2 separate regions of the Homo sapiens genome follow, and region 1 is linked to region 2. Evidence: fine-mapped expression QTL. A gene starts in region 2. The other region holds a variant in brackets. All regions are shown on one strand. Distances are from middle to middle. Region 1 overlaps ANKS6 (ankyrin repeat and sterile alpha motif domain containing 6). Region 2 holds the start of ANKS6 (ankyrin repeat and sterile alpha motif domain containing 6).

The links.
Region 1: its variant is fine-mapped to the expression of ANKS6 in whole blood (TOPMed, PIP 0.96).

Annotation. Positions count from the first base shown.
Region 1 is chr9:98,753,158-98,758,538 of GRCh38, forward strand. It overlaps ANKS6 (ankyrin repeat and sterile alpha motif domain containing 6), which reads right to left. Exons shown (of 15, transcript NM_173551.5): 12 at 3,263-3,446. Among named protein-coding and RNA genes, the nearest start is that of ANKS6, 41 kb to the right of the region's middle. The variant A/G (reference allele first, on the strand shown) is at 2,831.
Region 2 is chr9:98,794,234-98,799,614 of GRCh38, forward strand. ANKS6 (ankyrin repeat and sterile alpha motif domain containing 6) reads right to left here and starts at 2,322. Exons shown (of 15, transcript NM_173551.5): 1 at 1,900-2,322. The coding sequence starts at 2,258. LOC124902229 (a long non-coding RNA gene) reads right to left here. Exons shown (of 2, transcript XR_007061689.1): 2 at 4,215-5,376. RefSeq lists enhancers at 1,585-2,085, 2,086-2,586 and a silencer at 1,845-2,464.

The DNA.
Region 1 (5,381 bases), 41 kb before region 2:
TTCTTTCTTATAAATTCCATATAGCCAATTGATTCTCACCAAATGCTTTCATTTGTTTTTGCCCTACTCTTGTACCCACAGCCAAGGAGTATGGTTCCAACATGAACACTGGCTGAGAGTTTTGTTTACATGAACAAGAAACATAAAAAAGAAACAACAAAGACTTACGTTGGAACTTCAGGTGAGCAACTTGGCTGAATCAGATAATGGTTTTCAAATACTGGAAGAGTATTTTCTCAATTTTTTGTGCTACTCACAAGATAACGGTTACAGATACAACCTACTTTTAAGTTTAATCCTCATTGTTAACATTTTCCCATCACTGCCTAGATTACATGTAGACAATATCTATAAGACAACAAATCAAGCCCCGGATTGCTTGAGACCAGGGAGGTTGAGGCTGCAGTGAGCTGTGATCACACCACTGTACCCCAGCCTGGGTGACAGAGTAAGACCCTATCTCAAAAAAAAAAAAAGCAAGCCCTGATTGATGGTGTTTGCCAATTTCCATGGTGTAAATACCCCCATCATAGCCAATTTCAACCTACCAATCTAATGCCCCTGAAAGTGAAGCTGAGCAGAGATGCGCAGTAGGAACACATCATTACGGGGTATTCACACTGCAGGTATGAGATATACACAACCTCAAGAGCACAGATAATAAAATATACAAAAATGAGTAAAAAATACATTTTAAGTACAATATACTGTTATATTTCTATAATTCAGTTAATTCGAAGTTCATGTAATTTGTAAATAATGGTTGTGTTTAACAACCAGCTTGGGCATGTCCTATAAACTGAACAGTCGGCTCTGGCACCCCACTGCCCATCTCTTCCCAGTGTCGTGGTCCAGCTGGAGTGCCCGCTCACCAGGGGAGCCTACCATGGCACATGGTGCTTTGCTGATAACAGGTATGACCTCACCTTGTGTTACACTCTAATGTCATTATGTTGAATGTGTCTGTATCCCTGTGAGTTCCCCTGGGTGCATAGGTTAGGGCATCCAGGGGACTGCCCAAGAAAATTTCCTGGAACAAATGTGAGGCTGAGAAGGTGATGCTGTCACCAGCCTTGCTGCTTCAACAGGTGGAGTCCAGAGAGGAGGAATGCAGATGGAGACATGAGGCAGGGAAAAGCTCACGTGTCCTTGACTGGGACCAAATATTTCCCAGAAGAATATAATAAAAATAGCTCTTTGGGGGCCGGGCGTGGTGGCTCACACCTGTAATCCAAGCACTTTGGGAGGCCGAGGCGGGCGGATCACGAGGTCAGGAGATCGAGACCATCCTGGCTAACACGGTGAAACCCCGTCTCTACTAATAATACAAAATAATTAGCCAGGCGTGGTGGCGGGCACCTGAGGTCCCAGCTACTTGGCAGGCTGAGGCAGGAGAATGGTGTGAACCCGGGAGGAGGAGCTTGCAGTGAGCCGAGATCGCGCCACTGCACTCCAGCATGGGTGACAGAGCAAGCCTCCGTCTCAAAAAAAAAAAAGCTCTTCGGGGATGGATTGCAGCCCCCGGCCTATAACAATCATATACCCACAGGACAAAGGGCTCGCTGCCTCAGGACCCAGGAACTCTCAACAGGAAAACTAAGCTTTATGAACCAGAGAAATTATTCTACAAAGAAAGTGCTATTGGCCCTCTTCTTTTTTCATCCCAATTAGGACTCTGCAAACCATTTTTAATAATGAACAAGAGGGAAAGAGAGTGGGTACAAACAGTCCATACAGACATCCACTGTCTCCACTCTTTTTTGGAAAACAATGGGGCACAAATACCTAACTGAATCTCTAGGGGCTTCAATTCCTGAAAACCTCAGAGGTGGGAGAATTCACGAGTGTGGAACTCAAGACTCCACATAGAAAATATGGTTGGGGAGGAATGAGTTTGCTGGTGAATCTCTGAGGCCTTGATAAATGATCACACTGGATATCACAAAACAATAAAAGCAGCCCCCAAATAAGGAGGACACCAGTGGCAGCATGCATTTATCAACTTAGTACAGACTAGAGCCTGTGCAAGTGATTCCAACTTATCTTGCTCAGCAGAACCTGCTCAGCACCCTACTCCTCAGCAGCTGCAGCGAACTGCCCGCAAACGCATTTGTGAGGGCCACGAACACAATCAGATTTTCCTCCCTGCTGACTTATACTCCTCGATTTGCACCTGCCTGGACCCCAGGTCTCACCAAAGCTTCCTCCCTCTTTCCCCCATCCCAGCTCCTACAGGCCTCTAGAGGGCAGTTTAAAAGGATGGGATTCCTTTCTTCATCTGCCTTTATCTTTCCTGGGGCCTGACTGCAAAGCCTCTGCTCCTGCCCTACCACCCACTCCATCTTCCCTCATCATTCCCGCATGGGGGCTGCAGAGGCTGTAATTCACAAGGCAGGTTCCAAGGCTCTCCTGGTTGCAGCAGACATCAACTGCTTTTGCTTGCCCTCACCCATCCCCCTTCTCCTGGAAACAGTATTTCCAAATTTTCCTTTGAGGAACTATTTCTCTCCCACTTCCAATACACATATGTCAGTAGGTTGGACCCCAACTCCGCTCCAAAGCAGACAACTGACCGAAGGGGCATGGCCAATCACCACATTCCACCCCTGTGGACACAGAGATAGTCAAGGGAGGGCAACTGACCTAGGTCATTATAAATACAGCCAAGCCAATGGCCTTTACACTTGGGATTTTGCTGGACCTACTGAGAAAGTAGCACTCGTTCTGCTGGAGTTGAAAAATTGGTGGGAAGACAAAAGTATGCCTGAAGCTGCTTGCCACCACTTGGAGAGAACCTACCTGAGACCTGGAAACACTCCCAAAGCACCTG[A/G]ATTCAGGCATGGTTGAAGCACACCCTAGACACTCCCATCATATGAGCCAATGAAATGTCAGGTTTCATTTTTTTCCCTTGAACCAGTGTGAGTGGAGTTTCTCTCACTCACAACTGAAAGAATCCTGACAGGTACAGGGTCCAGGGAAAGTAAGTTCGTGTTGGAGAAGCACTTCCATGGGTGTATGTTTGTGCATGTAAACAAAAATCACCTATACTCAAAAACTCTTTGAGGGAGCTTACCATACCTTTAGCATAGTGAAGACAAAAATACAAGGTACAATCAGAGAAGAGGAGGGACATGTTTGTCGTAAATCTTCTTAAAACCTGACCTAGGATGGTTATAGCAATTAAGGTCACCTTGCAGTTCCTTGCTGCCAGGTCATCATGGTGAGAGGAATAGGTGGGGTTTCAGGCCCTCAGGGGACTCACCCTCATCTGTGATGGTGCCACTGCTGGAGCCCCCACTGCTCTTGGACTGCCGATGGGATGACGAGGAAGACACTGAGGACTCTGCAGTGTGCCCTTTGGGTGAGGGGGAGGGCGTGAGGGTTGGAGAGGTGCTCTTGGAGGTAGTGGAAGTTCCAGATGGAGGCCTTTTGCTGGTCTCCAATTTCTGCTGAACAGAGTAAGACAAATACATAAGCCATCACCTGTAGGGTAGAAATGAGGAAAACAAGACACCCACAACAGGGAACATGGGTGGTATTTGATTCAACATGATGTTTAACCAAGACTATGAAATCTACTTTTAAAAACATGGAAAGCAGAAATATCATTATCAGAACAATTAGAGGAAAATGCAACCCTGGAGCAGAGATAGGATAAGATCAAATAGCTGCATATTATGAGTCAGGAACCACCCCGCTCCCCACCCCGCCCCGCTCCCCCAATCCCAGTCCTGCCCTCCAGCTACTTGCATTGTGGCTTTGGCCAAGCCCCCCGAGCTCTCTGGGCCTCAGTTAACCAGCTGTAAAATGAAAGTCTGGCTTAGGGAGGCACAAAGTCTCTTTCTGCTCTTGATGCTCCTTCATCTACACCAAAGAACACGTATTCTTCCCTTTTTCTCATTGGTTAGCTTTAAAACAAAGGCTTTTTACATTAAAATAATTCTAGACGTATAGAAGAGCTGCACAGAGAGAACAGAGTTCCCACATACCCCTCACACAGCTTCCTGATATTAATATCTACATCGTCACAGTATAATGATCAAAACTAACAAGCTGACATTGACACAACACTATTAACTAAACTACAGACTTCACTCTGTTTCCCTGGCTGTTTTGCTTATGTCCTTATGCTGGTCCAAGATCTGATCCAGGAACCCACACTGCATGGAGCTGTGCTGTATCTCTGTAGGCTCCTCTGACCTGTGACAGCGCTGTCTTTCCTTGTCTTTCATGACCCTGACACTTGGGAAATCTTGGTCAGGTATTTTGAAGAATGCACATCATTTTGGGATTATCTTAAGTTTTCCCATAATTAGATGTGCTTGTGAATGTAGGGGGCAATGAAGTGATATGCCCATTCAGTGCATCGTTATGCAGAGAGGACACAGTATCTGATTACTGGTGATGGTAACCTTCATCACTTACATGAGGGGATGTCTGCTGGGTTTCTCCATTATAAAGTCACTATTTTTCTTTTTAATATTATTTGGGCTGGGCATGGTGGCTCATGCCTGTAATCCCAGCACTTTGGGAGGCTGAGGCAGGTGGATCACAAGGTCAAGAGTTCAAGAGCAGCCTAGCCAATATGGTGAAACCCCATCTCTACTAAAAAATACAAAAATTAGCCAAGTGTGGTGGTGGGTGCCTGTAGTCCTAGCTACTTGGGAGGCTGAGGCAGGAGAATCACTTGAACCCGGGAGGCAGAGGTTGCAGTGAGCCGAGATCGCACCACTGCACTCCAGCCTGGGTGACAAAGCGAGACTCTGTCTCAAAATAAATAAATAAATAAATAAATAAATATACAAAATAAAATATCCTTTGGGAGAAGTTTTTGGGTAAATATTTATTAAGGTTCTGCCCATTAACTTTGCATTCATTGGTGAGTCTCACTGAGGCAAGTGTTACAGTGGTGTTCCCATGGTGATTTTCTATTGCCCTCCTTCCTTCCACATTTATTATCTGTAATACTTCTATAAGGAAGAGTTGTTCTTTCTCTCCTATTTATTTGCTCAATCATTTATTCCTATCAGTACAGGCTCATGGGTATTTTTTAAGCTCTGGGCCATAATCCAATATTACTGTTATTTTGTAGCTCATTATTACAGCTTTGGCCATTGTGAGATCTTTCGGGTTGGCTCCTGTACCCTTTTGACATGCGCCATCTTTCTTTTTTTTTTTTTTTGTCTTTCTTTTTAAAAGTATTTGCCTACTTTCTGACACCACAAAATATTCTAAGCTCATCTTATGTTTCTGCTGACCCAGTACTAGAATAAAACACTTCTCCAAAGCTTTCCAAGGTCCCTTTTATTAGAGAATGGTATTTAGAAACCAAAATCTGGGTACTAGGTTGCTCACTGGTACTGGGATGTCACTGCTTCTAG
Region 2 (5,381 bases):
GTGTCTAATAGTCTGGCCTGATCCACACAGAGAGCTGGGACGATAAATAGATGCTTGCTCAGACCCAGCGTGGTGGCTGCCAGGGGTGTGGTTTTGAGCAGGATTCTGGGGGCGTATCCAGATCCAAGGAAGAAGAGCACAAGGCTGGAAGGTGTCAGCACACAGGCCATTCATTTGCCTACCCCGATGTGAGGGACAGACACACTGTACATCCTTCTGGAAGTCTTCCATATATACTACTCCTCAACTTGACCTTTTCTTATGAATTACGCAGCAGAAAGCTGGAGCACAACTCAACACAGGCAGAGATGCTACCTGAATATAGAGTCGGTGTCACACCAACTGAGGAACAGCACATTTTAAAATACCCAGGCTCAAGACTATCCTGCAGAACTTGGTTAAAACTGATGATCTGGGGTCTCTGAGACACTCTGAGGCATGTCAGTGCTGTAGTCACAAACCTCACTCAGTAAATTCCTCAGGGGGCTCACCAGGGCCCCTGTGCACGCACTTGGTGGATTGCAGAGATGAGACACACATAACACATCAGTGGCTCCCAAACCTACCATACAAGAGAATCACTGGGGAGCCTCTTCTCACACAGAGTCCCTGTCTCTTACTCCCCTCACTGCCCTGGGCCTTCTAAATCACAATCTCCAGAAAAGGAACTCAGGAATCTGCACTTAGACAAGCATCCTGGTGATTCTGATGTGTGGCCAGGTTTGGGTACTGAGGAAGCCAGTCAGCATTAACATGGTGTGATGGATGCTACCACAGAGGCCTTTCTGCTGCGGAGGGACCAGAGAACAGGGAGATATCATGGCAGGCTTCACAGAAGCCAGATCTCTAGATGCCATCCTTGCTGTCTCTCTTAACCCCTCCCCAAGGGCCAGTCGTCAACTCCTGCTGATCTACTCCCTGAATATATCACAAATTCATCTGGGTGCCCTCCCTCCGCTGTCTCCATTCTGGTCTAGGCCACCATCACCTCTCACTCAGACTGCAGCAAACTCTACCTAACCAGCCTTTTTGACTCTAGCTTACCCTAGAGTATCTAATCTATTCTCACACTTCAAGGAAAGTAATTTTTCCAAAACGTAACTCTCATCCTGTCACTCATTCTGCCTAGAACCTTCCATGACTCCCTAGCACCTTCCATGACTCCCTAGCACCCTAGGATAGCTAGCGTTTCTCAGCTCCCACACTCCCCCAACTCCCTGGCATCTGCCTTCTCTCCAGGGAGGACTAGTACATCATTCTACTCATACATTCTACGCATACCTCATTCTACCAGTCCTACCAGCTCGTGCACCCAAGCCTTTGCATGGGCCTCCCATCATGCCTTCCCACAGCCCACTTGTAATGTCCTGGCTAATTCTCAGGTATCCGCAGGTCTCCACGTGGATATAAACATCTTTTCTACCAGAAACCTTCCCCCACGTCTCCAAAATGGGTCACCTGCCCCACAGCTACTCAAACCTTTCCGGTCAAGCTCGTTCCTTTGCCTGGCCTGCCCACCAATGCCCTGGGTGGGGACTCTGCCTGGGTCTCGCAGCACCCTCAACGCCAAGCCAGGAAGGGAAGGCAGGTTCTGAGGAAACTCTTACTGCAATAAGAAATGAATTAAATCTCTAAGGTTCTAAGTCTCTACAATTCTATTCGCTGTCTCCAGATTCTATTCTGAAAGGCCAAAATTTCTAAGAATCTGATTTTATGTTAATTCAAAAGTGTTTCCACGTCTATGCTCAAAGTTTACAAAAGACTACTCAAAGTTTACCATTCCAACTCTAAGGAGTCCTTAACTCTTCACCTCCCGGGGCATCCGGCCGCCGGGGACCGCGTCTCGGGCCAGCGCCGGGCACCACTCTGGTCCCGGGCCCCCGGGCCCCGCCGCCTCACCTGGCCGCCTGCATGAGCGCGCTCCAGCCGTAGTGGTTGCGGCTGTTGACCGAGGCACCGCGGCGCAGCAGGAAGCGCACCAGCGGTTCGTGGCCCCCGGCCGCGGCGAACTGCAGTGCGGTGTTGCCCGCCTCGTCCGAGCAATCCACGGGCACCGGAGCCCCGACTGCCCCCGCCGCTGCGGCCCCGGGCCCGGCCACCTCGGCCCCCGCCGGCTCCGCGCCCGCCTCCGGCTCCGCGCCGCGCTCGGCTGGCTCCGCCGCCCCCGGCTCCAGCAGCCGCCGCGCCGTCTCCGTGTCGCCCTGGTCACACGCGCGCAGCAGCAGCTGGAAGGCCGGGGGCAGCCCGCCCTCGCCCATCGCCGCCGCCACGCGCGGCCCGCTCCCGTCCGCCCCGCCGGCCGCGTCGGCTCCGCCCCCGGATACCGCCCGCAGGCGCCCCCTTCCGGCCACCCGCCCGCGCCGCGCGCCTACTGTGTGCCGGGAGCGCGCCGGGGCTAGGGCCGCGCGCCTGCTGTGTGCCGGGAGCGCGCTAGGGCCGGGGCTGCGCACCTCCAGTGCCCGTATTCGGGAGTCCAGGGACGCTCAGAGGAGCGCCCGCCGCAGACCCGCGTGTTCCCTTTTGCCTCTTCGGCGCCCTCTCGCCGCCCTGTCCCGGGGCTCCAGAAACTTCCTGTCAGGGCAGAGGTGGGAGCGGCCACGCCATCCCCTCTTCACGCTGTGGTCAGGGCCCTGGGCCCGGGTCTGAGTCCGCAGCTGCGTGGGCCTTGACTTTACTAGCGGGCTCCGCTGACCCCACCGCAGCCCCTGGCACTGAACCTGCCCTTCTAGAATAAGGAAGCGGCTGAATTAAGGAACGAACGGATTGTTTCCTCACAGTGTCCTGCGGTGCCCTTAATGTCGCTCCTTCATCTGGGCCAGGCTGCTGGGGCTAAAAGCGCCTCCTGTTCTCTCTCTCTCCCCCACCTTTTATTTCAACTATTATTATAGATTAAAGGGTACAGGTTTGTTACATGGGTAAATTGTTACATGGGTAAATTGCGCGACGCTGAAGCTTGTGGTCCCAACGATCCCGTCACCCAGGCAGTAAGCATAATACCCACCAAGAGGTTCTTCAGCCCAGAGTCCCCTCCATCCCTCCCTGGCCTAGCGATCCCCAGCGTTTGTTGTTCCCATCTTTGTGTCCATGTGTACTCAATGTTTAGCTCCCACTTATAAGTGAGAACATGCAGTATTTGGTTTTCTGTTCTTTTTAGGTCGCTTAGGATAATGGCCTCCAGCTTTATCCATGTTGCTGCAAAGGGCATGATTTCGTTCATTCTTATGGCTGCATAGTATTCCGTAGTATTCCATCATATTCTATCGTGTATATGCACCACATTTCTTTCATTCCTTCCCTCTCTTCCCTCCCTCCCTCCCTATCCCCCTTCCTTCCTCCCTCCCTCCCTCCCTTTCTCCCTCTCTCTCTCTCTCTCTCTCTCTCTTTTGACAGGGTCTTGCTCTGTCATCCAGGCTGGAGTGCAATGGTGCAATCTCTACTCACCACAACCTCTGCCTCCCAGGCTCAAGCAATCCTCCCACCTCAGCCTACCGAGTAGCTAGGACTGCAGGCAAGTGCCACCACACCCGGCTAATTTTTTGTATTTTTGGTTGAGAAAGGGTTTTACCATGTTGTCCGGCTGGTCTCAAAGTCCTGAGCTCAAGTGATTCACCTGCTGTGGCCTCCCAAAGTGCCAGGATTACAGGTGTGAGCCATCACATCTGGCTCTGTACCACATGTTCTTTATCCAATCTACTGTTGATGGGCACTTAGGTTGATTCCATACCCTTGCTATTGTAAATGGCACTGCAATGAATATACAGGTGTCTTTTTGATAGAATGAATTATTTTCCTTTGGGTATATACCTGGTAGTAGGTTTGCTGGGTCAAATAGTTCTATTTTAAGTTCTTTGAGAAATCTCCAAACTGCTTTCCACGGTGGCTGAACTAGTTTGCATTCCCACCAACAGTGTATTTTCTCCACAGCCTTAGCAGCACCTATTGTTTTTTGACTTTTTAATAATTGACATTCTGACTGGTGTAGATGATATCTCATTGTGGTTTTGATTTGCATTTCTCTGATGATTAATGATGTTGCGCATTTGTTTCATATGTTTGTTGGCTGCCTGTATGTCTTCTTTTGAGAAGTGTCTGTTCATGCCCTTTGCAGAGACACAACGAAAAAAAGAAAACTTCAGGCCAATATTCCTGAAAAACATAGCTGCAAAAATCCTCAATGACATACTACAAACAGAATCCAGCAGCACATCAAAAAGTCAATTCACCATGATCAAGTAGGCTTTATTTCTGGAATGCAAGGTTGGCTCAACATGCGCAAATCAATACATGTGATTCACCATATAAACAGAATCAAAAACAAAAACCATATAATCATCTCAATAGATGCAGAAAAGGCCTTCAATAAAATCCAACATCCCTTTATAATAAAAATCTTCAAAACAGATTAGGCATTGAAGGAACATACCTCAAAATAATAACAGCCATCTATGACAAACCCATAGCCAACATCATATTAAACAGGCAAAAGCTGGAAGAAGACTCTCACCACTCCTATTCAACATAGTACTGGAAGTCCTAGCCAGACAACCAGGTAAGAGAAAGAAATAAAAGGCATTCAAATAGGAAAAGAAAAAGTCGAACACTCTGTCTTTGCGGAGAGTATGAATCTATACATAGAAAACCCTACAGAGTTTGCCAAAAGGCTCCTGGAAATGATAAACAAATTCAGTAAAGTTTCAGGACAGAAAATCAATGTATAAAAAGCAATAGCAGTTTGATATGCCAATAACATTCTAGCTGAGAACAAAATTAAGAACACAACCTCATTTACAATGGTCACAAAGAAAATGAAATACCTTCTCTCTCTTTATCAGCGGTCCTTGAAGTGTGTCCCACACAGCAGTAGCACCATCACCAGCTGCAACACTGTTACAAACGCAGATTTTTCTGGCCCTACCCAAGATCTACTGAATCAGAAATTCTGGGTGTGGGTTCAGCAACCTATATTTTAACAAGCCCTCTGGGTGATTCTGATGCATGCTAAAGTTGGAGACCCACGTTTGATCTTCATTGCACGCCTGCCATCCACCGGGGAGGGCCCAGATGATCATCCCTAGGTTGCAGAGGAGGCAACCGAGGCACAAAGAGGTTGTGTCTTGCCAAAGACTCCACAACTATTCTGCAGGAGAGCTGTGAGTAGGACTCAGGTCTTCTGACATCGAGTCCAACTCTCTTTCCATTTTCAACAAATATGTATTGAGTGCCTGCCATTTCCAGACACTGTTTTAGGTGCTGGAAAAGCTGCAGGATTTAGTACAAGGTTCTTCTGTAGCTCACAGATCCATGAGAGCCTGAGAACCAGTTCTGGAGGCCCCAAAGCCAGGAACAATGACCCAAATCTCATGCCGCAGCTGCACCCTGTA